7 separate regions of the Homo sapiens genome follow, and all the other regions are reported to be linked to region 1. The links are microRNA targets in miRTarBase. Many come from high-throughput screens and were not tested one by one. Region 1 holds a microRNA gene; each other region holds the end of a gene's coding sequence.
Evidence for each region. The annotated mature microRNA hsa-miR-4701-5p reads UUGGCCACCACACCUACCCCUU and lies in region 1 at 2,526-2,547, opposite strand. An mRNA with a match to its seed (bases 2 to 7 or 8) in the 3' UTR can be bound and repressed. Matches are read on the target gene's strand: a 7mer-m8 pairs with bases 2 to 8, a 7mer-A1 pairs with bases 2 to 7 and ends in A, and an 8mer does both.

Region 2: the mRNA of CEP78 is a reported target of hsa-miR-4701-5p. Seed matches in the 3' UTR shown: 7mer-A1 at 1,521-1,527 and 7mer-A1 at 910-916.
Region 3: the mRNA of KIAA0586 is a reported target of hsa-miR-4701-5p. Seed matches in the 3' UTR shown: 7mer-A1 at 3,403-3,409.
Region 4: miRTarBase lists SLC2A6 as a target of hsa-miR-4701-5p. Seed matches in the 3' UTR shown: 7mer-A1 at 2,869-2,875 and 7mer-m8 at 2,631-2,637.
Region 5: the mRNA of EMC3 is a reported target of hsa-miR-4701-5p. Seed matches in the 3' UTR shown: 7mer-A1 at 3,426-3,432.
Region 6: miRTarBase lists RSBN1L as a target of hsa-miR-4701-5p. Seed matches in the 3' UTR shown: 7mer-m8 at 2,344-2,350 and 7mer-A1 at 965-971.
Region 7: the mRNA of TRIM65 is a reported target of hsa-miR-4701-5p. Seed matches in the 3' UTR shown: 7mer-A1 at 2,249-2,255.

What each region holds. Positions count from the first base shown.
Region 1 is chr12:48,769,489-48,773,554 of GRCh38, forward strand. MIR4701 (microRNA 4701) reads right to left here and starts at 2,549; the gene lies at 2,487-2,549. It overlaps ADCY6 (adenylate cyclase 6), which reads right to left. Exons shown (of 22, transcript NM_015270.5): 16 at 3,981-4,066; 17 at 3,020-3,055; 18 at 2,807-2,936; 19 at 2,222-2,485; 20 at 1,278-1,482. It also overlaps a transcript of SPMIP11 not described here.
Region 2 is chr9:78,270,392-78,274,457 of GRCh38, reverse strand. CEP78 (centrosomal protein 78) reads right to left here. Exons shown (of 17, transcript NM_001330691.3): 17 at 1-3,617. The coding sequence ends at 3,607. Among named protein-coding and RNA genes, the nearest start is that of PSAT1, 25 kb to the left of the region's middle.
Region 3 is chr14:58,547,595-58,551,660 of GRCh38, forward strand. KIAA0586 reads left to right here. Exons shown (of 31, transcript NM_001329943.3): 31 at 187-3,703. The coding sequence ends at 338. Among named protein-coding and RNA genes, the nearest start is that of DACT1, 88 kb to the right of the region's middle.
Region 4 is chr9:133,468,558-133,472,623 of GRCh38, forward strand. It overlaps SLC2A6 (solute carrier family 2 member 6), which reads right to left. Exons shown (of 10, transcript NM_017585.4): 10 at 2,537-3,619. The coding sequence ends at 3,464. CACFD1 (calcium channel flower domain containing 1) reads left to right here. Exons shown (of 5, transcript NM_017586.5): 5 at 6-2,291. The coding sequence ends at 96. It overlaps LOC124902295 (a long non-coding RNA gene), which reads right to left and starts at 10. Exons shown (of 2, transcript XR_007061831.1): 1 at 1-10. RefSeq lists enhancers at 48-207, 288-337, 408-457 and a silencer at 918-1,037.
Region 5 is chr3:9,960,256-9,964,321 of GRCh38, forward strand. EMC3 (ER membrane protein complex subunit 3) reads right to left here. Exons shown (of 8, transcript NM_001394674.1): 8 at 2,427-3,942. The coding sequence ends at 3,814. Among named protein-coding and RNA genes, the nearest start is that of PRRT3, 9.9 kb to the left of the region's middle.
Region 6 is chr7:77,778,696-77,782,761 of GRCh38, reverse strand. It overlaps RSBN1L (round spermatid basic protein 1 like), which reads right to left. Exons shown (of 8, transcript NM_198467.3): 8 at 1-4,066. The coding sequence ends at 3,594. Among named protein-coding and RNA genes, the nearest start is that of TMEM60, 18 kb to the left of the region's middle.
Region 7 is chr17:75,887,448-75,891,513 of GRCh38, reverse strand. TRIM65 (tripartite motif containing 65) reads left to right here. Exons shown (of 6, transcript NM_173547.4): 6 at 167-2,551. The coding sequence ends at 735. Among named protein-coding and RNA genes, the nearest start is that of TRIM65, 7.5 kb to the left of the region's middle.

The DNA of each region.
Region 1 (4,066 bases):
CCCTGAGTCAAGACAGCCATGCTATAACAGTAATCTCCTGAATGCCTATTCCATGTCAACCACTCTAGTAAGCATTTTACCTGGCTTCATCCTTTCTTTTCTTTTTTTTTTTTTTTGAGATGGAGTCTTGCTCTGTTGCCCAGGATGGAGTGCAGTGGCACAATCTCAGCTCACTGCAACCTCTGCCTCCCAGGTTCAAGAGATTCTCCTGCCTCAGCCTCCCGAGTAGCTGGGATTACAGACATGTACCACCACACCCAACTAATTTTTGTTTTTTTTTTTTTTTTGGGGGGGACAGAGTCTCGCTCTGTCACCCAGGCTGGAGTGCAGTGGCACCATCTCGGCTCACTGCAAGCTCCGCCTCCCGGGTTCACACCATTCTCCTGCCTCAGCCTCCCGAGTAGCTGGGACTATAGGCGCCCACCACCACACCCGGCTAATTTTTTGTATTTTTAGTAGAGACGGAATTTCACCGTGTTAGTCAGGATGGTCTTGATCTCTTGACCTCGTGATCCGCCTGCCTCGGACTCCCAAAGTGCTGGGATTACAGGCGTGAGCCACTGCGCCCGGCCTAATTTTTTTTTTTTTTTTTTTTTCAGTAGAAAAGGGGTTTCACTATGTTGGTCAGGCTGGTCTTGAACTCCCGACCTCATGATCTGCCCACCTCGGCTTCCCAAAGTGCTGGGATTACAGGCATGATCCACCGCGCCCGGCATGGCTTCATCCTTTCAACACCTCTAAAAGGTAGGTATTATTATCCCCATTTTATAGATAAGGTAACTGAAGCTTAGAGAAGTTAGAAGACTTCTCAAATAAGCCAGTAAATGGAGCAGCCAGAATTCAAACCAAATAGTCCATCTCTAGTAGCCATGCTATTAACCACTCCCATCCACCAGTTCATTTGAGAGGAAATACCTCTTATTGGACTGGTCACAGATAAGGACAGAAGTATTCAAGTTTATATAAACCTGATTTTTAATCCCAGCTCTGCCACTTACTAGTTGTTTGACCTTGGGCAAGTTATTTAATCTCTCTGAGAGTCAGTCTCTATCCAATGAAAGGCGATAATAGTATCAGGATTAAAATATGCTCAAAAATTTATAGGACAGTGCCTAATGATCTCTGTTCTTAATATCAGACTTGATATAGGAGGTCAGAGGGAAGAAAACCCCACAGGAGCCCTGATGGGAAATCTGTGATCCCATCCCCAGCCTATAATCCCAGCTTCACCTGGAAAAAGTCCTGGGAAAACCCGCCAAGCAACAAAGCCCTCTTACCAATCTTCATCTGGAAATTGTTGAAGGAGTGCTCATTGATGTGCTTCATCTGCTCCATGAGCCGCATGGCGTAGTCAGCCAGGGCAGTGATGTGGGAGCGGCCCACCTGATCGTAGGTGCTGGCGTTCAGCCCTGAGGCAGCCATGTAGGTGCTACCAATCGTCTTGATCTTTTCCAGCTGCCGGAACCGCTCCTCGCTGATAATCTGAACAACACAAGGAGACCTGGCTGTCAAGGCAAAGACCCCAGACCCAGCCCTGCCCCAACACTCATTTCTTGCCACGCCTTGGCTGCCTTCCCCACTTCCCTGTCTCAAGAGCCCCCTTCCAGCTGCTGCTATCAGTGTAAGACTGAGGAGCTGGGAAAACAGGCAGCCTAGGACTCCAGGCAGGACTTGGGCATACAGCTTCAGAAGGTCCCTCCAGTAGCTCACTCACAGAACACAGACCCACAAGTGCAATATTAAGCAATTTCTCCAATCCTTACCTTTTGGGATACTGAGTCCCAGAGTGAGCAAGTGACTTCCCTCCAGAACAGTGAACAGCCCATTCCTGATCTGGATGTTCAGGACACTACCTCACATTTTGCTTCAATTTTCTCTATTCAGAGGACCATCTTGCTTGGTTGGTCTCATGAGGTTCTGTCCACAGACTATTGCCTTCTTCTTCAGTGACATCCACCTGGTACCTATCCTATCCCCCTACAGATCAAGTCCTCCCCTGCTCCCCAACAGTGATGACCCTGCCCCACTAGGGCTGACCCCCTTGCTGCCTCTGACACCTTCATGGGTTCTTGCCTCTGCCTCCACTGTGCATACCCTTACCCCTGATGACTCTGGGTCCCATCAAATCTCTCTCTCTCTTCCCAGTTCCACTCACCCATTCCAATCCCTGGTCTCCAAGTACCCCCCACTCTCTGCCACCACCAGCCAACTGGAAAAGTACCTCATCAAAGTCAGCGATGATCTCGTTGAGCAGCCGCAGGCACTCGACACCCTCATTGTTTGCCTCCAGCTCCACATAGAACTCAGAGAAGTTGGCAATGGAGGCAAACATAACAGCCACACACTCACACGACTGATAGTAGAGTTCATCATTGCGGCGCTCCCGGGCCAGGAAGTGGGCCGCCACGTCCTTGGGCAGAATGTTATGCAGCAGCCTCCGGTTGTATGCCTGTAGCTCCTCCATCTCCTCCTTCTCCCCTGTTGCCTGTGGACACCACACCCATCACCCATTGCCCGACATTCACAAGGGGTAGGTGTGGTGGCCAAGGCTTGGAAGTGCGGATAAGAGGGAATCACATAGAGAAAGAAAGGCCCAGACAGATGAGGCCTAAAGAACAGGCAAAGGGGTAAAGGGGGCAGGTAGAGGATGGGGCAGGGAGTAAGGGATGGGCACAGAGAAGGAATGGAACCAGGGTGGGCCTAGGTGTGGCCTGAGCCTTAGCCAGCTAGCACAAGATACATTTCTGGCCTGGCCCAGGCTCCGCCCCTAGGTTCCTCCTCTTCCCCCAAAGGCCCACACAGTCACCTGTAGTTTCCAGAGGAAGTCTAGGCGGGCAGTCGACTCCACCTGCTGAGCATGCAGATACAGCGCCAGCGCAAACACCAGCAGAATCACAGGGGTCATATATTTGAGGGCCACCCTCCCTGCAGCTGGACTAAGGATAAGCAGAGACATGCTTGGTGTCTGAAGGAGGCATCTAATGGCTCTACCCTTTGCTGCCTCGGAGCCCTCACTTACCAGTCCAGCCCATCAAAGGTCTCATTGGAAGAAGCCCTGGTAAGAAGATAGAAGAGACAAAGTCATCAGTGCTTCCTGGATTGCTGGGTGGGCACATGGAAGGGGAGACAAGAGACTGCATTTACTGAGCACATACTGTAAGTCAGGCATTGGGCCAGGGCTTTTACTTACATTAATTAACTCATTAAGAGTAGAGGTTAAGAAAACCTCTGCTCTTAGAGACTCCTCTACTTACCAGCTATGTGACCTGAGACAAGTCGCTTAACTCTCTAAGCCTCCTTCCTCATCAGTACAACAGGGATCAGATCTAAATAATGTATGTAAAAGGCTTAGCACAGTGCCTGCCATATAGTCAGCCTTCCATAAATGTTAGTTACTATAATCTTTACAACTACCCTGTGATTTAGGTGACATTGCCATTTTACAGATGAAGAAATTGAGGCTCAGAGAAGCTAACTCACCTGTCTAAAGTCACACAGCTAATGAGCAGCAGAGCAGGGATTCAAACCCAGCAGAGACCAGAGGCTTTTTCTACTACAACAAGCTATGGCCACATATCAAAGGAATGGGGTTTTGCAGAGGAAAAGCCAGTGTGGTGTCCCAGGCAAAGCCCCCAAGCAGGAATCAGAAGCTTTGGTTCCTAACCAGAGCCCTGCCACCAAGCAGCTGTATGTCCTATAGGTGGTTAAGATGGTGGATGTGAAAGCACCATGCAAATGTAAGAGGGAATTTTTTTTTTTAATGTCTAGCCTAAAGACACAAGGATTTCCCAGGACTAGGGTTTCCTTGGGGGTAACTATTTGGGGTCACATGCTGGGAGCTCCTCCATCTCCTCCCTTTCCCCCACAGGGGTGTTGTGGCATTCCAAGGCACAAGGGGCATGGGCACCAGAGAGGCTCACAGTGACCTAGAAAGGTGAGGGAAGCTCCTGGGGTATTAAAGGACCTGAGAATAAACTCACAAGCCATGGACGCCAAGCAGTAGGTCATAGTTGTCAAAGATGGTGGCTGGGGGACCCAGCAGAAGCAGCACCAAATAGATGAGCCC
Region 2 (4,066 bases), not on the chromosome of region 1:
TATGCAGTTCTATAAATTTTAACATATGTATAGACTCACGTTACCACCACCGCAATCAGGATACAGAACTGTTCATCACCAAAACAAACAAACAAACAAACTCCCTTGTACAGCCTCTTTGTAATCAACTCCTCCCAACCCCAACACCTGGCAATCTCCAATCTGTTCTGTCACTATAGTTTTGTCTTTTCAAGAATGCCATATAAATGGAATCATACAGAATGTAGCCTTCCGAGACTGGCTTTTTCACTCAGCATATGATGTTGAGATTCATCCGAATTGTGGCATGTTTGCCACCATATGGATACATCGCTATCCATTCACCTGTTGGAAGACATCTTGGTCACTATGAATGGAGCTGCTATAAATATCCACGCACAGGTTTTGTGTGAACTAAGTTTTCATCTCTCTAAATACCCAGGAGTGGGACTGCTTGGTCATATGGTATGTGTATGTTAGCATTTAAAGAATCTGCCAAACTGTTTTGAGTGACTGAGTCATTTTGCATTCCTACCAGCTGTGAGGAACTCCAGTTGCTCTGCATATTTATCAGCATTTCAAAATGTTAGCCATTCTAGTGTGTGTGCAGCAGTCGATCCACTGATTCTGAAAAGAGATGTCTTAAAGCTTCTTGTTATAACTGGCTGGCCATTTTTCCTTGTATTTCTAAATTCTTACCCTATAATTTTAAGATGAAGGTTTTTGTTTGTTTGAGACGGAGTCTCCTCTATGGCCCAGGCTGGAGTGCAGCGGTGCCATCTCAGCTCACTGCAAACTCCGCCTCCCAGGTTCAAGCGATTCTCCTGCCTCAGCCTCCCGAGTAGCTGGGATTACAGGCATGCGCCATGACACCCAGCTAATTTTTTTTTTTTTTTTTTGTATTTTTAGTAGAGACGGAGTTTTGCCATGTTGGCCAGGCTGGTCTTGAACTTCTGACCTCAGGTGATCCACCCACCTCGGCCTCCCAAAGTGCTAGGATTACAGGCGTGAGCCGCTGCGCCCGGCCTAACATCAAGTTTTTAAATTGCAGATATATTTTTTTAAAAAATCTTCTGCAACACTGTACTTATCAGCCAAAAGAAGCTTTTGTCCCCTTTACCAATTTTCACCTTGGGTTCTATTTAGTCTGCAGCTAACACAGCCACATTTACTCTTTAGCATCTGCCTGGTATATTTTTGTTCATCTCTTTATAATCTATGACAGCGTTTTAGATTTTGCAAATAGCACACAGTGGGATTTCATGTTTTTACTCAAGCCTAAGGATTCCAGAATTTAACCTGTTCATGTTTATTATGAGTAAAAAACTTGATCTTGCTATATTGTGGATTTTTTATTTCTATGTAGCTTGTTTCTTTTTCTTTCCCGTCTTGTTGGACCTAAAAATTCCATTCCCTCTTTCCAGGTAGTTTTGTAGCTATTAAAGTTGTTGACATACATTTGCTTCCCTCTCTTCTCATGGCAAATGGCAATTCTGCACTTCCCTGGTCTGCTGAACTCAGGCATAACCATGTGACTTTCTTTGGCCAAAGAAATGTGAACAGAAGTGACATATGTCACATCTAGACAGAAGCTTTAAGTCACAATATATGCTGCATCATACTGTCTTTCCTTGGACACTGCAACCAGCAATGTTCCAAATAGTGACGTTCCACCAGCCTCGCTTCCAGATTGAGGTTGATGTTGAATAGGGGCCTCTAGCCAATCTGCCAAAGGCAAACTGCATGGGCACAAATAAACCTATGTTGTTGAAAGTAATTAAAATTTGGGAGCTGTTAATGCAACATCACCTAACCTATCCTTACTAACATACCCTTAACTTTATATATATTTTAATATATTTTTTCAATCAATACCTAGAATCAAACACTACCTGTATCCTTCCCATGAATAAGACAATATCTAGGACAAGCTTTCACTTTCTGTGTCCTGCCATGCCTCCATTCATGTTCAAACCTAGAACTTTGGTTGGACTTTGTTTTCATATGTCATTAGTATTTATTTAGACTTTTTCTGACTACAGGCACCTCTGGTGATTATAAAAGGGGATTTGCAGGTCACAAAGCTGAAGTAGTTTGTCTCATATCTTTATCAATATCTTTATCAGTTTATTTGATCTAAACATCTTTCATGGGGCTGGGCACAGTGGCTCAGGTCTGTAGTCTCAGCACTTTGGGAGGCCAAGGTGGGAGGATCATTTGAGGCCAGGAGTTCAAGACCAGCCTAAGAAAGAACCCATCTTGGCCGGATGCAGTGGCTCATGCCTGTAATCCCAGCACTTTGGGAGGCCGAGGTGGGTGAATCACCTGAGGTTAGGAGTTCGAGACCAGCCTGGCCAACATGGTGAAACCCCGTCTTTACTAAAAATACAAAAATTAGCCAGGCATGGTGGTGTGTGCCTGTAATCCCAGTTACTAGGGGGGCTGAGGCAGGAAGATCACTTCACGGTTGCAGTGAGCTGAGATCGAGGAGGTTGCAGTGAGCTGAGATTGTACCACTGCACTCCAGCCTGGGCAATAGAGCGAGACTCCGTCTCAAAAAAAAAAGAAAAAAAGAAAAAAAGAAAAGAAAGAAAGAACCCAACTCTACAATAATTTTTTAAAACTTCGGCATGGTGGTACATTGCAGCTACTTGGGAGGCTGAGGTGGGAAGATAATTTAAGCCCAATGGTTCATGGTTACAATAAGCTGTGATCCCATCACTACACCCCAGCCTGGGTGACATGAGTGAGACCTTGACTCAAAAAAAAAAAACCCAAAAAACAAAACCACACGTTAATGGGTTCATTGTTCATTTTGCTTAGTTACTCTGAGAAAGATTTTTTCTAAGTAATTAAGTTGCTGATGAAACGTCTAAGACCAATTAATACCTTCCATTTCATGAATTTAAGCTTCAAATGAATCCATTCTGCTGTGTAGTCCATCTTCTGAGTGTTTCAGTTTCATAATCAAATTTTTAATTTCCAGAAACTCTAAATATTTTTTTCATGGCATCCTATTCTTTATGAACACAGTATCTTTATGAATTGCTGAAGATTTTGATTCATTAATTTAAAAATTTCATGTTTCTCCTAGTAACTATCTTCTTGAACAGGTTAATTTTAATTTCATGCCTCCTTTTATGTTACTGGTTTTCTTCAAATTTGATGATTCTTGGTTGTCCATATTTATAAATGAGGGCCTAAGATTAAAGTTGGAAGTGTTATTTTTTCATCCAAATGGGAATTCTGGTTCACTTTTAATGAACACAAATGATTACAGGCACTTATATGGTGATTATAAACGGAAGTGGCAGGTCATCATAGTTAGAGAGATCATGTGGGCAGCTTAACTTCAGTTCCTCTTCGGAGCCATTTTGGATAATTCCCTTATTCTCCGATCCCAGCATTTCTTGGGTCAGAGCTCCCACTTCAGATAGCTGCTTTCTTAGCCTGGTGGCAAACTCCAGAATCAGATGCTCCAAAGATGAGTGGAATGGCTTAGCTGTTCCATCCTTTAATTAACTGGTACTTAAATCATCTGCTTCTTATCTTCCAGAAATTTCACTGTTCAAATTTCTGGTTTTCCAACTCTGCTATTATTTTTATTTTAATATTTCTCCAGTCATTTCAATGGGATTCTAGAAGCATAAAAGAATGTGTTCAGTCATCCATGTTAATGTTCCAGCATGTAGTTTATAATCAGAATTTTTCAAAAAACCAATCATCTCCTATCATGCCGATCCTCTGAAAATCAAGTGTTACTGTCTTGAGATTAGAGATTCTGTAAATACCCATTTGAAATTGGACGAACTCATTATTGGATATAGAACTGGATGGGCAAGCAAGAGTGATGATTTTTGACCACTAGTAATTATGTGTGAATTTAAGACAGGATGACAAGCTCTTTGCTACAGTATCACATCTGAATGTTTTCTGAAAAGGGTCCTGTTTGCATACAGATTGTATATGTGCTGGTAAGTACTCAGTAAAGGTGCATAGTAATTTCTCAGTAAAGGAACACACTTGTACCTTTCTCTAAACCAAATGAAAATACCATATTTCAAAATTAAATGATATTATTTCAGGT
Region 3 (4,066 bases), not on the chromosome of region 1:
AGGAGGAAGGTGTATTTTACCTCTCTGACAAGTTCTGAGCACCTTGGGACAAGAGAGTCCCTTGTAGGCAATCCTTATTTGGAATCCGCGCCCCCCCACCCCAACCTCATATTATTTCGCAAAGCATAAAGCACGTAAATACTCAGGTTACGCATGTTGAGCTGAATGAGCTTCTCCTTTGTGCAGGTGGGAAAGCAGTGCCACTCTCCGCTTCACAGATGCCCCCTGCCAAGATGTCAGTGATGCTGCCGTCAGTGAACCTCGAGGACTGCTCTCAGTCTCTGAGTCTCAGCACAATGCAGGAGGACATGGAGTCTTCGGGGGCAGATACCTTCTGAACGGGAAGAGACAGCCAGCACAGTGTTTATGCCACTGGTTTTAAAGTCATTTTACCTTGGCTTAAAACCCTCTCTCAGACTGTTTGGTTTTTGAGCATATTCTGAAAAAAAAATTCCAATATTTTAAAATAAAACAAAAAGCATAATTTGGGTATTTAAAGTTTTTAAATAAAATAAGTATAAGTCATTATAAGTCTGATTGTGAGTTGTTTCTTAGAATCCTGAGATAGCATAGAGTAGTGAAAGGGCATGGCTTTTGACATCTAGGCATTTAATCTATAGGTGTAATTATCTGTATGTATTTATAAAATTATGTAGCTCAAGGTTATTCATTCTAACATTTTTATAACAGCAAATAGAAAAAATCAAATGTCTATCAATAATAGACTGGTTTTAAAGTGATGGTACATCAGTACAATGGAATACTATGTATTACAAAAAAAAATTTAAAAAGTTTATTGATATGGAATAATCTTTGAGATGCACTGTTAAAGTGAAAAAAGCCATGTGCAAAATAGTGTGTGAACTATGCAGTTGTTGAAATTATTTAAAATGGGGTGGGGAGGAATTCAAATGTATGGTATGTCACATATTCTTACATGTATTTGCTTGTAAATATATTATATAAACAAGAAACTGCTAAGTTTGTCTCCAGGGAGTAGAATTGTTGGCTGGGTGATAGGAGAGGCTAAGTGATAGGAATCAAGGATAATCGTGGTTACTATGTATTTGAACTTCAGTTGTGATAGAAAAAAATCATCAGTGAGATTAATTTTTATATGCCTTATGTATACCATATAAACCTTTATAAACCTGTGAAACATGTAACTCTATTACCTTTTGCAACATAAATACATAAAATTAAAGGAAAATAAAAAGCATTGCTTCGTAATCAGATACATGTAGGTTCTAATCCCAATTCTGTAACTTCTTGCTTTGTGATAGGGGCCAACGAAACGCCTTCTTATCAGCTGTTTCAGATTAATGGGTTTAATACTTATTTTTGCAGAATAATGGACATCAGTGATTGTGTGTGGAGATGGGGGTGGGTAGTGCCCAGCACAGTGCTTGATACCATGTAAGTGCTCAATAAATGGTGTTGTTCTTATTATCTTGAGGGATTTCAGTACTGTATAGTAGAGGGCATAAGCACATGAAAAGAAAGGCAGCCTAGCACTAGTGAAAAAAATTTACCTCCCAGAAAAATCATTTTCTGTCACAACTGAATTTCAAACACACAGTAATTACAGTCATCCTTGACTTTTTCAGCATTTTTGTAGGTTGCTAAGTGGATCTCAGCACTGGCAGCACATTAGAACCTCTGGGAGCTTTAAAAAATACTAATGCCTGGGCCTTGTACCAAGGGATTTCAATTTAATTGATCTTGGATGGGGTCCAGCATTGGTATTAAAAAAAAAAAAAGACCTTTTCAGGTAATTTTAATGGGCACTCAAGGCTGAGAATTACTGAAGAGCAATTTAGAATTCCTTAAACTTCTAGTAGGAGCCATTGCCTGGGGATTTTTTTTCTCACTGAACATAGAAGCTGCAAGAGTCTATGGAAACTCAGAAATGTGTCAGCCTTCCACATGCACTTCCTCACAGCTTCTCTCAGGTATTTGGTTACTGGAATGTTTTAGGTTTCACTTTAGAACCCGTTTTCTTTGATATGGCCCTTTGGACAGTTCTGCTTATAACAGTTTCCTTTAAACAAGTGGAAGAAAAATTCTGCTCTGTGGATTTTAATTTGTTTTTGATATTCATCTACAAGACTCTGGGCAAGGTGAAAGCTGGAGAAATGTTGCTTAGTGCTGCTTCATTTTAAACATGACACCCCACCCCCCAACCTTGGTTTCTGGTTTTCATAGTTTTTTCTGCCTTGGAAGGATTTCAGCAAAATCTTGTTTTAGTTAAAGCATTTTTTATTTAAAGGTGTTGGTAGATTTTTCCTCCTAACCATAGAAAGCCTGCCTTTTCTAACTTTAGGGTAGAAGTGTAATCTTTGATTTATTCTACTCCCTGTGCACGTGAGCTTTTCTTTTAAAAAAAATTAGTGTCCATTCGACGGTTTCTTTTTTTTTTTTTTGAGATGGAATTTTGCTCGTTGCCCAGGCTGGAGTGCAATGGCACAATCTTGGCTCACCGCAACCTCTGCCTCCTGGTTTCAAGCGATTCTCCTGCCTTAGCCTCCTTAGTAGCTGGGATTACAGGCGTGCGCCACCATGCCCGGCAAATTTTGTATTTTTAGTAGAGATGGGGTTTCTCCGTGTTGGTCAGGCTAGTCCTGAACTCCCGACCTCAGGTGATCTGCCTGCCTCAGCCTCCCAAAGTGCTGGGATTACAGGCGTGAGCCACCGCGCCCGGCATTCATCTAGTATTTTGTTTTATAGGATTATTTCTGTTCATGGTTACTCCTGTACACATTCCTCTGCCAACCACTTCAGATTCTTTTGGAATAAGACGATGTACGTAAAAACAAACTAAATGGAACTTTTGATTTTATAAGCTTTAAAATTTTTATTTTATATTAAATTTTACAATTTCCAACTTCCGGAATAAACTATTTATGAGACATGCTATTAAGAGACTATCAAGATCAAGGCTGTTACTATTGCTGGGCTGTGACTGGACACGGTGGCTCATGCCTGTAATCCCAAGACTTTGGGAGGCCGAGGGTGGATCACTTGAGCTCAGGAGTTTGAGACCAGCCTGGGCAACATGGCAAAACCCATCTCTACCAAAAATACAAAAAATTAGCTGGTCATGGTTGCACACACCTGTAGCCCCAGCTACTCAAGAGGGTGAGGTGAGAGGATCGCTTGAGCCCAGGATGTCAAGACTGCAGTGAGCCGTGGTTGTGCCACTGCACTCCAGCCTGGGTGACAGAATGAGACCGTGTCTCAAAAAAAAAAAAAAAAAAATTGCTGAGCTATCATGCCTTAACACTAGGTAACGTGTTTAAAATGTTCCTTTCTGCTGGGTGCGGGTGGCTCACACCTGTAATCCCAGCACTTTGGGAGGCTGAGGCAGGCAGATCACCCAAGGTTAGGAGTTCAAGACCAGTCTGGCCAACATGGTGAAACCCCATCTCTACTAAAAATACAAAAATTAGCCAGGCATGGTGGCGTGTGCCTGTAATCCCAGCTACTTGGGAGGCTGAGGCAGGAGAATTGCTTCAACCCAGGAGGCAGAGGTGGCAACGAGCTGAGACTGCACCACTTAACTCCAGCCTGGGCAACAGAGTAAGACTCTGTCTCAAAAATAAATAAATAAATAAATAAAATGTTCCTCTGTTTTAAATCCTAAATTCGTTCTTTGTATACTTTAATAGAATCTTGAATAAATATTTTTATTCTTAGAAGATTATTTCAATATGTTTCTTATTGCTTACAGATTTCTGGTTCCTTGATAACTTTAAAATGCTAAACATATATCTTAAGATCTTTTATTGTTTTTCTATTAACTCAAAACATTTTAAAAATAAGTAAAGTAGCATTTTTAAGTTCATAGTGTATTACCACCCCCAATCAAAAAGTAATTCTGTAACTGGCAGGGCGCAGTGGTTCACACCTGTAATCCCAGCACTTTGGGAGGCCGAGGCAGGTGGGTCATCTGAAGTCAGGAGTTCGAGACCAGTCTGGCCAACATGGTGAAACCCCGTCTCTACCAAAAATACAAAAATTAGCCAGATGTGGTGGCGTGTGCCTGTAGTCCCAGCTACTTGGGAGG
Region 4 (4,066 bases), not on the chromosome of region 1:
CCCAGGGGCGATGCGATCTCCTATGCCAGGATCCAGCAGCAGAGGCAGCAGGCGGATGAGGAGAAGCTCGCGGAGACCCTGGAGGGGGAGCTGTGAAGGGCTGGGCGCCCCTCCCTCCCTGTCCCCTCTTCTGGCTCTGTGTGGGTCCAAGTGAGGCCTGGACTGTCCACGCTGAGGCACAGCCTGGAGAGGGGCCTTTGCACGTGTCCCTACACCTGGAGTCCTCTGCTCCTTTCTCCAGACTGGCTTAAGCCAGGAGCCACTGGCTGCTGGTGTGAGGGTCTGGGCTGCTGGACTTGAGGCAGAGCCTGCAGCAGCTGTGTGGACACTACCCAGCCCTACTCCTCTGCTGGGTGGGTCTGCAGATCTCACACCACAGACAGGGCTGCCTGTGACCTGCTGTGACCTGGGAGCAGCTTCCCCTGGAGATGCTGGTCCTGGCTTGAGGGGAGGGGCAAGTGGGACCCTGCCACCTGGGCACTGAGCAGAGGGACCTCCCCCAGCTCTCTTAGCAGGTGGAGCCCCAGGGCCTGGGACAGCCTGCCGCTGCCAGCAACCTCCCACTGCTGCCTAGGGTGCAGCGCCCACTGTCACCCTGCCTTCTGAAGAAGCCCACAGGGCTCCTAAGGTGCACCCCGGTACCTGGAACTGCAGCCTTGGCAGTGACTGGACAGCTGGGTGGGGGATGCTCCCTGCTGGCCCTGGGAACCTTGGACAGGCCACCTCAAGGCCCCTCGGCTGCCCCTCCTCCCTGGGCCTGCTGGGGCCCCTAGGTTCTGCCCATCACCCCCCGCCCCTGCTGGCCTTGGTGCTAAGGAAGTGGGGAGAGCAGGCTCTCCCTGGCACCGAGGGTGCCCACCCTCTCCCTGGTGTGGCCCCGTCAACATCAGCCACAGCCCAGCCCCATTAGTGGGTTAGTGGGTCTGACCTCAGCCCCACTCAGGTGCTCCTGCTGGCCTGCCCAAGCCCTGCCCTCAGGGAGCTTCTGCCTTTTAAGAACTGGGCAGAGGCCACAGTCACCTCCCCACACAGAGCTGTCCCCACTGCCCTGGGTGCCAGGCTGTCCGGAGCCAGGCCTACCCAGGGAGGATGCAGAGAGCTGGTGCCCAGGATGTGCACCCCCATATTCCCTCTGCCCTGTGGCCTCAGCCCGCTGGCCTCTCTGACCGTGAGGCTGGCTCTCAGCCATCGGGCAGGTGCCTGGTCGGGCCTGGCTTAGCCCAGGTGGGGTTTGGCAGAAGCGGGCGGGTGTGGAAGATATTCCATCTGGGGCCAACCCCAGGCTGGGCCTGCGCTGAGCTTCTGGAGCGCAGGTACTGGGTCTTGCTAAGTGAACTGTTTCCCAGGAACACCTCTCGGGCCCATCTGCGTCTGAGGCTGGGAGTGGCATCTGAGGCCGGGAGTGGCATCTGAGGCCAGGAGTGGCAGGCTGGTGGGCTGGGCGTGGGGTTTTCTGGGCCCTGCCCAGTACTGCCCTGGGGACTTGGTGGGCTCCTGGGTCAGCAGCATCCCACCCCTGGGAGTCTGGCCAGCTGAGCCCCAGGGTGGCAGGGGCATTATAGCCTGGTGGACATGTGCCTTCAGGGTTCCTCCGGGGCCACCTTCCTCAGGCCAGTGCTGGGTTCAAAGGGCTGTGTGTGTGTGTGTGTGTGTGTGTGTGTGTGTGTGTATGTATATGTGTGTGGGTGCACACATCTGTCCCATGTATGCAGTGAGACCTGTCTACCTCCCACAAGGAGCAAGGGCTCTGCCCGCCCTCTGCTCATTCCTACCCAGGTAGTGGGACCCCGGGCCCCCTTCTGCCTGGCTTGCCTGCTTCTGCCCTTTCCAGAGGGGTCTCACTGACAGCCAGAGACAGCAGGAGAAGGGTTGGCTGTGGATCAAGGAAGGCTGCCCCTGTACCCTGTGGGGAAATGGTGGGTGCATGGCTGGATGCAGAGGTGGAAGGCCCTGGGCCACAGGCGAGAGTGGGCGTGTCACCTGTCCCAGGTTCCCAGCAAGTCTGCAGCTGTGCAGTCCTGGGGTCCCTGACCCTGTCGCCCAGGGGGCGTGCTGTCCAGCAGGGGCCCTGCCTTGCAAGGAACGTCTCTTCCGGCGGCTGGGCCGCTCCTGCCTGGTCTGGGCTGTGTGTGGCGCCCTTTCCTCCTTGTTTGTTCCTCTGTGTTCTGTGTGCGTCTTAAGCAATAAAGCGTGGCCGTGGCTCGCGTGCCTGCCCTCTGCTCCCTTCTGCCTTGGTGCCTGTGTGTGAGTGTGGAAGCCAGGCAGGAGCCGCTGGCCCAGGAAATAACTACAGGTCCTGTCCCGAGGCTGCCCCCAGCATCCCAGACAAGGAAAGTGACCTGCCCAAGGTCACACAGCTAGAAAGAGCCTGTTAAGGGTGGGCCTCGCAGTGGGCTTCCCCTCACTGCAGCCTTTTCCCTGCCCTGCTTTTGCTATGGATCAGCAGTCAGTGGCCCTGGCAACCTTGGCTGGTTCGGGTCTAGCCTGGCTGCTGTGGGGGCTCCTGGAGTAGACCCCACTCTTTCCTCGCTAGGACTACAGGTCCAGTTCCTTTATTTTTACAAAAGGGTGAACACAGTTTGCAGATAGGAGCTGCCTGTTCCCAGAGGTTGGGCTGGGGCAGGAGGAAGTGGCCACGCCAGGTCCTTTGCCCTGGCTTTTTTTTTTTTTTTTTTGGCAGGGGGTGGGGACGGAGTTTCACTCTCGTTGCCCAGGCTGGAGTGCAATGGCATGATCTCAGCTCATTGCAGCCTCCACCTCCCGGGTTCAAGCAATGCTGCCTCAGCCTCCCAAGTAGCTGGAACTACGGGTGTGTGCCACCACACCCAGCTTTTTTGTATTTTTTAGTAGAGACGGGGTTTCACCATGTTGGCCAGGCTGGTCTTGAACTCCTGGCCTTGGGTAATCCACCTGCTTTGGCCTCCCAAAGTGCTGGGATTACAGGCGTGAGCCACTGTGCCCGGCCTGCCCTGGCTTTTTAAGTCCAGGATGTTCCCTGTGGTGCCCATAAGACTTGTGAGGGCAAAGCCGGGTCTTCCTTGCACAGCCAGATGCCACCAGATCAGAGCGCGATGATATGACTACGTTACTTGGCTGCCTCCAGCCCTGTCCTCTCAGTCCTCCCCGTAGCCTTCTGTGGGGCGTGTCCTTCACGCAAGGGAAAGGGACTAGGCCTGAGGTCACCCAGCAGGGCCGTGTCCCTGGATGCAGGGTTGTATGCACTCCTGCGGCCCATGGCTACGTGCAGCACTGTGGGCTGCCTGGGCTGGGGCTGTGGCTGGACAGCAGTGCTACCTGTCCCGAGCCAGGGGCACCCGCTGCTGAGGCCCCATCACACTGCTCTTCCTGTGCTCTGGCTGGTGGCAGGGATGACTGCTGCCTCTTGGTCCCAGGGTGCAGGTTTGTAGCCAACACAGAGGCCCAGCCACTGGGGGTTTGGCCCCCTCCAGGCGGGGACCTTGACCTAGCGCAAGAAGGACCTTCTCCCCGTGCGGAAGAAGGACTCGATCTGCTCCAGGGACCGTCCCTTGGTCTCGGGCACACAGCAGCCTGTGAACACCAGGCTCACCAAGCAGATGGCCGCGAAGAAGAAGAAAGGCACCTGGAGGCCGAAGGTGCTCTGCGGGTGAAGAGCGGGGCCGGGTCACAGGGAGAAGCTCCAGGGTCCTCCTGCCCCAGAGGAGCTCGTGGGCGCTGCTGGTAGTGACCAGCCCTGTGGGGCCTTCATCTGGTCCTTCCTGTGTTCAGAGACCGCCCCCCCACACCAGGGCTCCCCCACTGTCCCCAGGACAAATCCGAAGTAGCCCTTGAAGTCTGCATCCCGTCTGCCCCTCGGCCTTCCTCAGGGGCTGGGCCCTCTGGCGTCAGCTCAGGTACCCCCTCCACACCCCCTACCCAGCGCTGGCATCCCAGCTGTTCCATGCCGCGGCCTGCAGGAGGCCCGCCCTGCAGCCTGGTGGGCACGCAGGTTCTTCTTGGACCCTCTAGGCTGATGGACTCACTCTGGGTTGCCTGCCCTCCCCCAACCCCCCTGCCCTGACCACTGCAGGGACAGCTTAGGCGCTGG
Region 5 (4,066 bases), not on the chromosome of region 1:
CTGGGCCTACAGGCACCCGCCACCATGCCCGGCTAATTTTTTTGTATTTTTTAGTGGAGAGAGGGTTTCACCGTGTTAGCCAGGTTGGTCTAGCAGTCTGAGTTTTTAAGGTCTGTGACTGTGTCTTGTTCATATGCAGTGCCTGGCAACACTCAATTCACTATTGGTTGAATGAACAGAAAGATCTGAAAATATCTAGCATGGCCCTGAGCACACTGTAGAAATCCTGCAAATGTTTGCAGACCGCAATTACTTCCAAGGACAGGGACAGCACCTCCTGTTGGGAACATTCCAGATGGTTTGGATGATTAAAGGTAAGATAAGATATTTTTTGTCTGGTACCCATGCCACTTCTTCAGGCAACAGCATCCCAGTTTTCCTTTGGGGAATCACTCTTATTATACCTTCAGTTCTTATAGTTTATGAGAAGCTAAGCAGTTCCTGGAATTTGCAGTTGACTTAAGGCAGATGAGTTAAGATGCAACCCTAACTTTTCCTAGATTTTTTAAAAAGGGGTGCTTTCTTTTCACTAGGATTACTAATCTCGTGCCTCTATAAGAAAACTAACTGTCTAAGAAGCAGACTTGAGAAAGCAACTGAGTCCTGATGATATCATGAGAGGCCCTGGACCCAGCTGTGCCTGAAGCCAACCACCAGACATTTTAGTTATTGAGTCAATTTCCATTCCTTTTTAATTGCTTGAGTTCAGCTTGTCACCTGCAACTGCAATATTCCTAATCCAGTTAGTAACCCTCTTTCACATACACACATACCCATCACACACCTTACAGACCAAACAGAGGAATCGAGCTGACTTTTGTCCCTAAGCACGGGTTTACCTACTCACCTCAAATCTAAATTGTATTTTTCTGAGTTGTGTTGTGCAGTTGACTGTCAATATTTAGCTTTCCTTGTACGGTACTTTCTATACCAAGCTTGTCTGGCCTGTAGGCTGCATGCCGCCCAGGACAGCTTGGTATGGGGCCCAACACAAATTCATAAACTTTCTTAAAACATTGTTTTTTGTTTGTTTTGTAGCTTATCAGCTATCGTCAGTGTTAGTGTATTTTATGTGTGGCCCAAGACAATTCTTATTCCAGTGTGGCCCAGGGAGGCCAAAGGATTGGACACCCCTGTTCTATTCCATGATCAGCAAGTAGACATTTGCGGTGTCCTAAGTAGTATCAGGTGATAAGTCAAGGTGGATGGAAGAGATGCAATTCTCATTTATAGCCTGGCCCAAATTGAACTCCAAGAAACACACACAATAAGCACTGCTCCCTAAGCCTGTGCGCTGTTCTGGAAAGAGCCTACTAAAACAACCTTGGCTTTTCTTTTTGACTCGCTGATGCCAAGGACAGGTCTGTGCATTTACTACCAGTACAATGGGACAGGAAAGTCTCACACACATTTTTTTATTCTTTGAGATGGAGTTTCACTCTTGTTGCCCAGGCTGGAGTGCAGTGGCACGATCTCGGCTCACTGCAACCTCTGCCTCCCAGGTTCAAGTGGTTCTCCTGCCTCAGCCTCCCGAGTAACTGGGATTACAGGTGCACACCACCATGCCTGGCTAATTTTTGTATATTTAGTAGAGACGGGGTCTCACCATGTTGGCCAGGCTGGTCACACACATTTTAACCACCCATCTTTGCTACAAGGGAAAAAGGCCAAACCTTGTGTGGGTGAAGAGGCAGACTCAAATGCTCCCGATGCAGAGGAACGAGGCGGCTACCACTCAATCACCAATTACCATTTGCATGCTACCCAACCTGGACCTTTCCAGGGCATACTGGACCACTCCCCACTTCCTTGGGGTGCAATGAATTGCAGACAGTTTAATCCATGGGCTTTTGCTGATTCTGTTTTCTCTGCTTGGAATGCCCTTCTACACAGAGGAAGTCTTTCAAGACCCAGGTCAAAGGTTAGCTCTCCTGTGAACACTTGTTCCTTTTCTATCTGGTATAAGCAGCCATTTTAACTATCGTTAAAGGTCAGGGTTTCTTAACTTGGGTCTGCGGGTCATTATGAATAAGTTTTAGAGGGACATGTCTGTATCTATGTCCACATATGTTACTCTGGAGGCCAGGGTCAGAGATTCCAGATTCTCAGATTCGGTGACCTCAAAAAAAGGTCTCTTTTGGCCAGGCACAGTGGCTCATGCCTGTAATCCCAGCACTTTGGGAGGGTGAGGCAGGAGGATGGCTTGAGCTCACAAGTTCAAGACCAGTCTGGGCAACATAGCAAGGTATCGTCTCTAAAAAAATAATAAAAAATTTTAAAAAGCTCTTAGGTGTCTCTCTCTTGTGAGTTGAGGGCAAGGTTCACATCTCTTTCGTCTTAGACTCCCCGCACTGATCCAAGATAGACAGTCAACTGCTGGCAGAAGGTTGTTAGTGACTTACAGAGGCAACACTTTCACAGGCAAAGAAGAGAAAACAGGACGGTTTAATTTGTGGAGTCGAGTCGTTTGTTCTTAATTACTGCACTCAACATGCAAATTATATTCACCTCTTGGTACAGAAATGGCACCGTCACTTCCCTGGGACCTTTAATCCAGACAGAATTATTCTTGGGCACCCTTATCTGTGTGTCTACCAACAACTGCCGTCTCTCCCTTCTTACAGCAATATGTAAATTCTCTTTTGTTCCAAGCAACTGGGAAATGAGGTCCTTCATCCAAAGGAGTAGCCATTTCCAGTATAGCACCACTGATTTGTCAATGGATTTGATAAGATTTGATACACTGACATCCAGATCAAGATTTTGCATTATTTATAGACAGTCTCTGATGATCCCAAAGGCACTTTAGAATCTGGCAGTGCCTCAGGGTCACTGATTTTCACTGGGCAGAATTAAGTGATATAGAAGGTTTGCTGAGTCTGTCCTGACCCTGGGTATTCACTCTGAAGAGAGTTTATTTGAATAAGGTTTTGACATATTTGGTCTCTATGTCTATGTAGGCTCAAAATGAACAGGGAGATTCATTTTGTTCATCCATAGTTTCTAAACCTTTGGTAGTGGAAATGGTTTACTTGTGTAAAGAAAGTTAACAATACTAACAAAACTAATGGTAAAACACAGGGTGTTTGGATCCCAAGAAAACAGGAGTTTACTGTGGCTAGATGTCAGGCTGACTGCACATAATCATTAGCTATAATTAACAATGCTTCCTTCGAAGACTGGGCTTCTGCTAAGATAGATATATATATATATATATATATATTTTTTTTTTTTTTTCAGATGGAGTTTTGCTCTGTCGCCCAGGCTGGAGCGCAGTGGCACGATGTCAGCTCACTGCATCCTCCGCCTCCTAGGTTTAAGCAGTTCTCTGCCTCAGCCTCCCAAGTAGCTGGGATTACAGGTGCCCACCACCACGCCCGGCTAATTTTTTTTTGTATTTTTAGTAGAGATGGGGTTTCACCATCTTGGCCAGGCTGATCTTGAACTCCTGATCTCGTGACCCACCCGCCTCAGCCTCCCAAAATCCTGGGATTACAGGCGTGAGCCACTGCGCCTGGCCAAGATTTTATATATTATCAGTAGCCTGAGGTTTCCCCCTTTCTCTGACTTTCATTACTAGAGTCACCAGAAGGAACATTTACAACATTTTAAAAATAACAAGTTGCCCAGCATACTCCTATTTCCTCTAGTTTCAAACATAAAGGGGAACCCAGCCCAGACAAGAACAAGCCTTGCTGCATGCCTGCCAGCTCGTGCATCCTCCTTTTTATTTCAAGAGGTGCCAGCTCCAAACAAAGTTACAAGGTTAAGTGCAACTCCAAGTTCCTGACACAGCTAATCCCTGCTCGGTCTTCAAAAAATAGAGGTCTGTAATTCCTTTTTGAACATGCCTTCGAAGTGGAGGTCTTTGGCCATGAGCTCTTCTTCGACATCATCTAGTGCCCACTGGTGATCCGTCAGCTCCAAAGCTTCCCACTCTGTCTGTAATGGAAGAGAACACCCAGGCAGGAAGAGAGGGAATTGTTACTGACAGCTGTGGCTAACCTTTAGTGACCACTTACTCTGGGCCAAAAGCTGGAGTGAGCTATCTGCATGTATAAGCTCA
Region 6 (4,066 bases), not on the chromosome of region 1:
GACAACTTAAAAAATAAAATCTTCCCTACCCTCAATGACCACCACTCGAGAAAAGTTACAGAATGCATTAAAAATGAATATATGCGGAAACAAACATAATTATTTCCCACAAACATACACACACAAAAACAGGCACATGCACACACACAAATACAGTGTTGTGCAAAATCAACTTAATGTTTATTTAAGGTCAACAGCCTTGGTGACAAGGAAGATAATGAATATGGCTTCAGTAAAGTTTGCAAGTAAATATCACAAATGTTAATTCTTTTGCTAGCTAACCAGCTATCCTGAGTATGGAATACGTATTATTTAGATAGCTAAAAGGTTATAAACAAAATGGAGGGGTAGGGAGGGGGAAGCACTGTAGCAGATTCCACTGAGGTACCTTAGTTTTTATGTAAAGGTCTGTATACTCATTTAATAATTTACATAACAATTCTTTATTCTATATAGTATATGACCATATAGAAACGATGTCTTATGTATTTTATTGTTCTGGTCCAAGAAACTGGAAATAAAAGCAAAACGCTTGTATTCAGATAAAGAACTGGAATGTACTATGAAACCATTAATATAATGCAATATTAAAATAGAAAATTTTTGCATGTAACAAAGGTAGTCAACAAGTTCTCAGATTGTATCTGAAGAGGATGTGAAAATTATAACCCATAAGACAAGGAACGTAAGCATTATTGAAGGCATTAACAAGGCTGTACCTGCAAATCTTGAGCCCACTGATTTATACTTTACCTTCAGAGATGTATGCTTTTTTTTTTTTTTTTTTTTGAGACTGTCGCCCAGGCTGGAGGGCAGTGGGGCGATCTCGGCTCACTGCAACCTTCTCCTCCCGGGTTCAAGCAATTCCCCTGCCTCAGCCTCCCAAGTAGCTGGGATTACAGGCGCACGCCACCACGCCCAACTAATTTTTTTGTATTTTTAGTAGAGACGGGGTTTCACCATGTTGGCCAGACTGGTCTCAAACTTCTGACCTCGTGATCCGCCCGCCTCGGCCTCCCTAAGTGCTGGGATTACAGGCGTGAGCCACTGCACCCGGCCGATGTATGCATTTTTAAAACAATTAAATTTTCATATTATAGATAAGTCTGACTATAGGTTATATAGGAAACTATACCTAAAAGCAACCACTATGGTTTTTAGATATGCCTTCCTTTAAGTTAAAAAGTTTAAGGCTCCTATTTTGGAGGGATACCCTAAAGACATTTTCTCACAGTATGACCTCAATGCATCTACATATATGCTACTGGAAAACTGGAAATAAAACACAACTCTTGTTAAATATATCATTCTTCAACTTTAAAGAGAAACAGAAAACCATTTTAACTACATCCCTTCTTATTTCTCAATACTGGTTTGTTAAGAACTTCTGCCACTCAAAAAGGTAGGTGCAAATCCATAAATTTAGCTTAAAACAGAAGATTAAATAGGTGGGGAGCATGGTAAGACAATGACATATAAAACAAAACCCTTACTATCTTGATTTATACCTTCCCTATCCCATGAAACTTCCTACGTTGCAAACACTGATTTCCTACAAACCATGAAGATTTCCTATGATATTTGCCTATCCTTTTATTAAACTAGGGGCCAAAACTGACATCATTGCTGCAATTAACTTTTACTTGTTCTGGTGAAATGCTTCTTCCTAAATGGCTTCGCCCTAACCAGAAATATAAGCAGTTTTGATGGTTACCATAAATTAAGCCAGAAATGGAAATACCAACAGTAACCCAAAAGGCAGCACAAAGAACCCCAATTGAAAGTCATCAACCAAAGTATGTGCCCAGAATAATACCAAAAACAAACAAAATAGATTTGCAATGAGCAGAGTTTCTTACAGCAACGCATACATCAAAGACTTCTGATTTTTAATTACAATAGTAGAAGCAGTGTCAAATAGTGAGTCTATCATTAAAGAGGTCTGTTTTACTCATCTTTAGTTAGGCACTGTCAATCCGTCTCCTACCTCAATTTAATTTCTAGAACTTCTTTCGAAAAGGAAGTACTCCAAGTTGTTTGCCTTGCTAGGGTAGGGAGGAGATCCTGAGAGATAAGAGGTACCACAAAGTATTTTGTTAATTATATCTCTATATGGCAGTTGAGTCATTGTCATTGCCCTTATTTTACAGTTTTGTATTTGCCATATTTTTCTCCCATTCTGCAAGAAAAATGTAAAAGGATTTTAATTGCTCACAAGCTTTCTGTAACTAAAGATTTTATACTTAGCTATTACTTAGTAAAGGTACTTACTAGTAAGAAAATTCTCTAAACTTCTTATCATCCCATACACAATAAAAAAAATCTATGGTAGGCTATGTAATCTGGCCACGTAACTATTAGTTAGAAGCCTTTGTTATCATTAACATACCTTGTTTCTCCCAACTTTCTAAAACTGTTTCTATTACCTAAACTGCTTTCTTAATAGTTTAATATAAAACTTTTTTCAATGTATTTTGGGGAGAAGGGCTAAGGAATTTCACATATTGATCTTATTCAGCAATTTAAGAAAATTATGCAAAATATGATATATATATACATATATATACACATTCACACACACGCAGATGCACACTTTCTTAACTGAGTCTTGGTTGTTAAAAATGCCTGCATAGGCTGGGCGCTGTGGCTCACCCCTGCAATCCCAGCACTTTGGGAGGCCAAGGTGGGCGGATCACAAGGTCAAGAGATCAAGACCATCCTGGCCAACATGATGAAACCCCATCTCTACTAAAAATACAAAAATTAGCTGGGTGTTGTGGTGCGTGCCTGTAGTCCCAGCTACTCAGGAGGCTGAGGCAGGAGAATAATCACTTGAACCCGAGAGGCAGAGGTTGCAGTGAGCCGAGATCGCACCACTGAACTCCAGCCTGGTGACAGAATGAAACTCCGTATCAAAAAAAAGAAAAAAAGAAAAAAAAAAAAAAGCCTGCACAGTGTGAGGAACTTAAATATTTACTAGATTTGAATTACGTACATTTGCACTACAATACCACACTAAATAGATATACCAGCAGAGAATCATTATCAAATGACTTAAATGAATTGTCAGTTTGTCTTTACAGACTCAACAGAAAACATATTTATTAATATGAACATATGAACCTTTATTAAGTGGCTCACATTTCAGTATAAATCACACTAAAAAGATATTTAAAAGCTATTTACACTACAGTGCTGACACATTTAAAATGAAAAAAAAGGATATAAATAAGCTCTATGGAAAAGCTTTAAATTGTTGAAAAAGAATTCTGGCTCATATTACAAAATATATATATATATTTATATATATATATATATGTTAATGTCAGCTCTATTCTAAAACCTAAAATTCCAACGTAAATGATTTTTTTTTAAAGACTCCTTTATGTTTAAACCTGCAATGTTTACAGTGCATCTGGCCCTAAGTGCTTAATACTTCACAGTTATGGACAGGCACTGAGGAATGTTACAAAGCTACATAAACTATGTTTTGTAACAGACATAGGAGCAAGTCCTTGGCTTGCTTTCAGAATTCATGAATCTTTATTACATTAAATTTTTTTAAAAAAGGATTTTAGATGGTATATGCAAATTTAGCACAAAATGTCATCGTCTTTTTTATCTTGATTTGAATGTGCTGAACTGTGTTGCCTTGTATCAACTAGACTTAGATTTCCAGGGCACAATTCTTCCTTTAAATCTTTGTTGCTATTTTCAAATTTAGAATCCATGTCAATCTTAAATTCTGCAAATTGAACATGATCCAATTTTGCTTTAACATTCTTGCCATCCATATTATTCAGTGCTGTAGTCTTTTCAGGAATATTAACATTCACAGGTTCTTCCTTGATTCTTACAGATGCAATAGGTTCATGTTTAATCTGCTGTAATTCATATTTAGAATGAAGTTTATCTGAAAAAACAGAATCCAAGGAGGCTTTGCTTACAGCACAAATCATGTTGTCAGTGTGAGGTCCAAGAACAGATGATGTGGAATCTGATGATGTGCCTGTTTCATGAGTAGCTGTATTCTGAGAAGTGTCCTCCTCTGAGTGATATAATTTGA
Region 7 (4,066 bases), not on the chromosome of region 1:
GTGAACGGGGCTGATAGAGGATTCCGCCTGCGAGGTCGTGGCGAGGATTAAGTGCTATGGTGACGGCCGGTGCTCAGCGTGCCTGGCGGAGGTTTAGCAGCGGATAAATGGAGATCTGGTTGTGCTGTCTTCCCCCAGCCCACTGCTGTCCTCCTTTCCCCAACAGATTATCGCAATCTGACCTTTGATCCAGTCAGCGCCAACCGTCACTTCTATCTGTCGCGCCAGGACCAGCAGGTGAAGCACTGTCGTCAGTCCCGGGGCCCAGGCGGGCCCGGCAGCTTTGAGCTCTGGCAGGTGCAATGTGCCCAGAGCTTCCAGGCCGGGCACCACTACTGGGAGGTGCGCGCGTCAGACCACTCGGTGACACTGGGCGTCTCCTACCCGCAACTGCCACGGTGCAGGCTGGGGCCCCACACAGACAACATTGGCCGGGGACCCTGCTCCTGGGGGCTCTGCGTCCAGGAGGACAGCCTCCAGGCCTGGCACAACGGGGAAGCCCAGCGCCTCCCAGGGGTGTCAGGGCGGCTCCTGGGCATGGATTTGGACCTGGCCTCAGGCTGCCTCACCTTCTACAGCCTGGAGCCCCAGACCCAGCCCCTGTACACCTTCCATGCCCTCTTCAACCAGCCCCTCACCCCCGTCTTCTGGCTCCTCGAGGGTAGGACCCTGACCCTGTGCCATCAGCCAGGGGCTGTGTTCCCTCTGGGGCCCCAGGAAGAGGTGCTCAGCTGAAGAAGGCATGGGATGGAGCCCTGGCATAGCTGCCACCATGCCTATGTGCCCAAGAGCTGCCCAGCTTCAGCTTGGGGACTGGAGGACCAGCTGTTGGCCTCTCTGTTAACTCAGAAAGAGATGGGAGGTTGGGGGAGGTGAGCATAAACGCAGAGTTCACTGTTGCAGCCTTTTTGAAGGGGACACAGTCTAGGAGGGGGATAAATGGGATGCCCTTGCCCCAGAGAGAACCCAGTTCTAGGTACTGTCTGGGCCTGGGAGGCGAGAGCAGTGCCCAGGGGACTTCTGGGCTTACAGGACAGCGTGTGTGACAAAATTCAGATCTACCTGAACTTGCCTCTGGAGATGATAAGGGCCAAAGGAGCAGTCAGGGAGGGGCGGTGAGCCAGAGTAGTCCCAGGGGGAGACAGATTCCTCCCTCCTCCCCGCCTGCAGCTCTCTTTAATTTTTTGTAACATTTGGAGAGACGTCCGTCCTGTCTTGTAGTCTTTTTATTTTGTGCATCCTTATAATTGTATTCTACAAACAATTTTGTTTTCTGCATTTAAACATTTTTGTGTTTTTAGGAGATGGTCTTGCTCTGTCACTCAGGCTGGAGTACAGTGGCACAATCATGGCTCACTGCAGCCTCGAGCTCCTGAGCTCAAAGGATCCTCCCACCTCAGCCTCCAGAGTAGCTCAGATTACAGTGTTTTCTGAAGTTTCCTGACTTAACATAAGCATTTTTCACATGATTGAAAATTTTCACTGATTGCTGTAGTCATTCTAATGACTATCAAGTTTATTTATCCATTATTGGACATTTAAATTTCTTTCTTTTTAGCTATACAAACATTGATGTGTTTTTTTTGAGACAGGATCTCCATCTGTCACCCAGGCTGGTGTGCAGGGGTGCGGTCATGGGCTCATGGGATTCTCCTACCTCAGCCTCCTGAGTAGCTGGGATTACAGGTGTATGCCACCACGCCTGGCTTATGATGAATATTTCTGAGTGGGATGTTTGGCCACATTTATGGTCATGTATGTAGGCTGTTACCTCAAGTGAGTCACTCAGGGAACAATGAGCACTTGAAGATTTTTTTATACAAAAGGCCACAGTGAGGCCACCTTGAGTCAAGCCGACTAAGGCCCCTCAACCCTGTCACTAAGCAGCACGTGACACTGGCAGGACCTTCATCTCCAGCATCCCACCCCTGGGTGTGGGACTTTGGGGCAGCCGTGTGTGCAGGTGTCGGCACAGGCTAGCTCCTCCTGGTTTGGTGTGGTGTTTGCCATTGCAGAGCAAGCTGCCACGAAGACCCCTGGGCATGATTTTGCTTGTATTTCCGGAAGTGGGGTTGCTGGGTCATAGGGCAGGTGTAATTTTTTTTACTTGAAATGTTCCACTTCTTGTTCTGGGAGGTGGTTCCAAGGGTGTCTGCTTTTGGCCAGGCGCAGTGGCTCACGCTTGTAATCCCAGCACTTTGGGAGGCCGAGGCAGGCGGATCACAAGGTCAGGAGTTCGAGACCAGCCTGGCCAACAAGGCAAAACCCCGTCTCTACTAAAAATACAAAAATTAGCCGGGCATGGTGGTGTGCGCCTGTAATCCCAGCTACTGGGGAGGCTGAGGCAGAAGAATCGCTTGAACCCAGGAGGTGAGGTTGCAGTGAGCTGAGATTGCACCACTGGACTACAGCCTGGGTGACAGAGCGAGACTCTGTCTCAAAAAAAAAAAAAAAAAGGGAGGGCTGTCTGCTTTTTGTAACTTGAAAAACTGGACATCTATGTTATATGTACTCATGGATAAATATTTCACAATAAAACTTTTTAAAAGGATAATACGTGTAATATACATACCCCCAATATATATAATGTTTTTATATTTGTAAAAAAAAAAAACCTCCCACGACGACCCCACCCCGATCACTGCCGTCATTGCAGCCTCCATCTTGTGGCCCTGCTCCTAGCCTGTGGCTGTTTGTTCAAGAGCAGGGCAGGGCCTTGGATTGGCACAGCCCAGGCAAGGACTTTCCAGCAAGATCCTCAGGTGGGAGCTCCCCAGACATGGGAAGGGAATCTGACATGTGCAGCCCCACAGCCAGGAGGCGGGCAGGACCTTGCTGACCAGCTAGGGGCAATGGTGGGAGCTGAAAGCCCAGCCAGGCAGGATGTATTGGCCTGGCCAGATGGCTGTCATTGCTGTCCCCACCTCATAGTCCCTCCTAATCCAAGGCTGCAGCAGAAGCACCCAACGGGCTGAGCCGCGCTCTGAAAGGGGCAGAGAGAGGAAGAGTTGGCCCCTTTCTGCTTCTGAGGTGGGAGGTGTTTGGGGTCATTTATTATGTGAAATTCATCTTCCTATTGGGTGGTGGTTCTTTCTATATTCTGCGAGCGTGTTCTATATTATTAATAATAACCCCTTTTTCTTTCTTTCTTTTTTTTTTTTGAGACAGAGTCTTGCTCTGTCGCCCAGGCTGGAGTACAATAGCGTGATCTCAGCTCACTGCAAGCTCCGCCTCCCGGGTTCAAGCGATCTTCCTGCCTCAGCCTCCCGAGTAGCTGGGATTATAAGCGCACACCACCACACCCGACTAATATTTATTTATTTATTTATTTATTTATTTATTTATTTATATATTTTTTGAGACAGAGTCTCACTCTGTTGCCCAGGCTGGAGTGCAGTGGCTCAATCTCGGCTCACTGCAAGCTCTGCCTCCTGGGTTCACACCATTCTCCTGCCTCAGCCTCCCAAGTAGCTGGGACTACAGGCACCTGCCACCACGCCCAGCTAACTTTTTGTATTTTTTAGTAGAGACAGGGTTTCACCGTGTTAGCCAGGATGATCTCGATCTCCTGACCTTGTGATCCACCCACCTTGGCCTCTCAAAGTGCTGGGATTACAGGCGTGAGCCACCACGCCCGGCGTAATTTTTGTATTTTTAGTAGAGATGGGGTTTCACCATGTTGGTCAGATTGGTCTCAAACTCTTGACCTCGTGATCCACCCGCCTGGGCCTCCCAAAGTGCTGGGATTACAGGCGTGAGTCGCCATGTCCGGCCCCCCTCTTTTCTTCCTAATGGACAGCCTCCCAAGTCAACATAGGCTCAGAGACTCCCACCCTTTATCTTTTTTTCTTTTTTTTTTTTTTTTTTGAGACGGAGTCTCACTCTGTCACCCAGGCTAGAGTGCGGTGGTACAGTCTTGGCTCACTGCAACCTCTGCCTCCTGGGTTCATGCCATTCTCCTGTCTCAGCCCCCAGAGTAGCTAGGACTACAGGCACCCGCCACCATGCCCAGCTAATTTGTTTTGTTTTTGAGACAGGGTTGCACTCTGTTGCCCAGGCTGGAGTG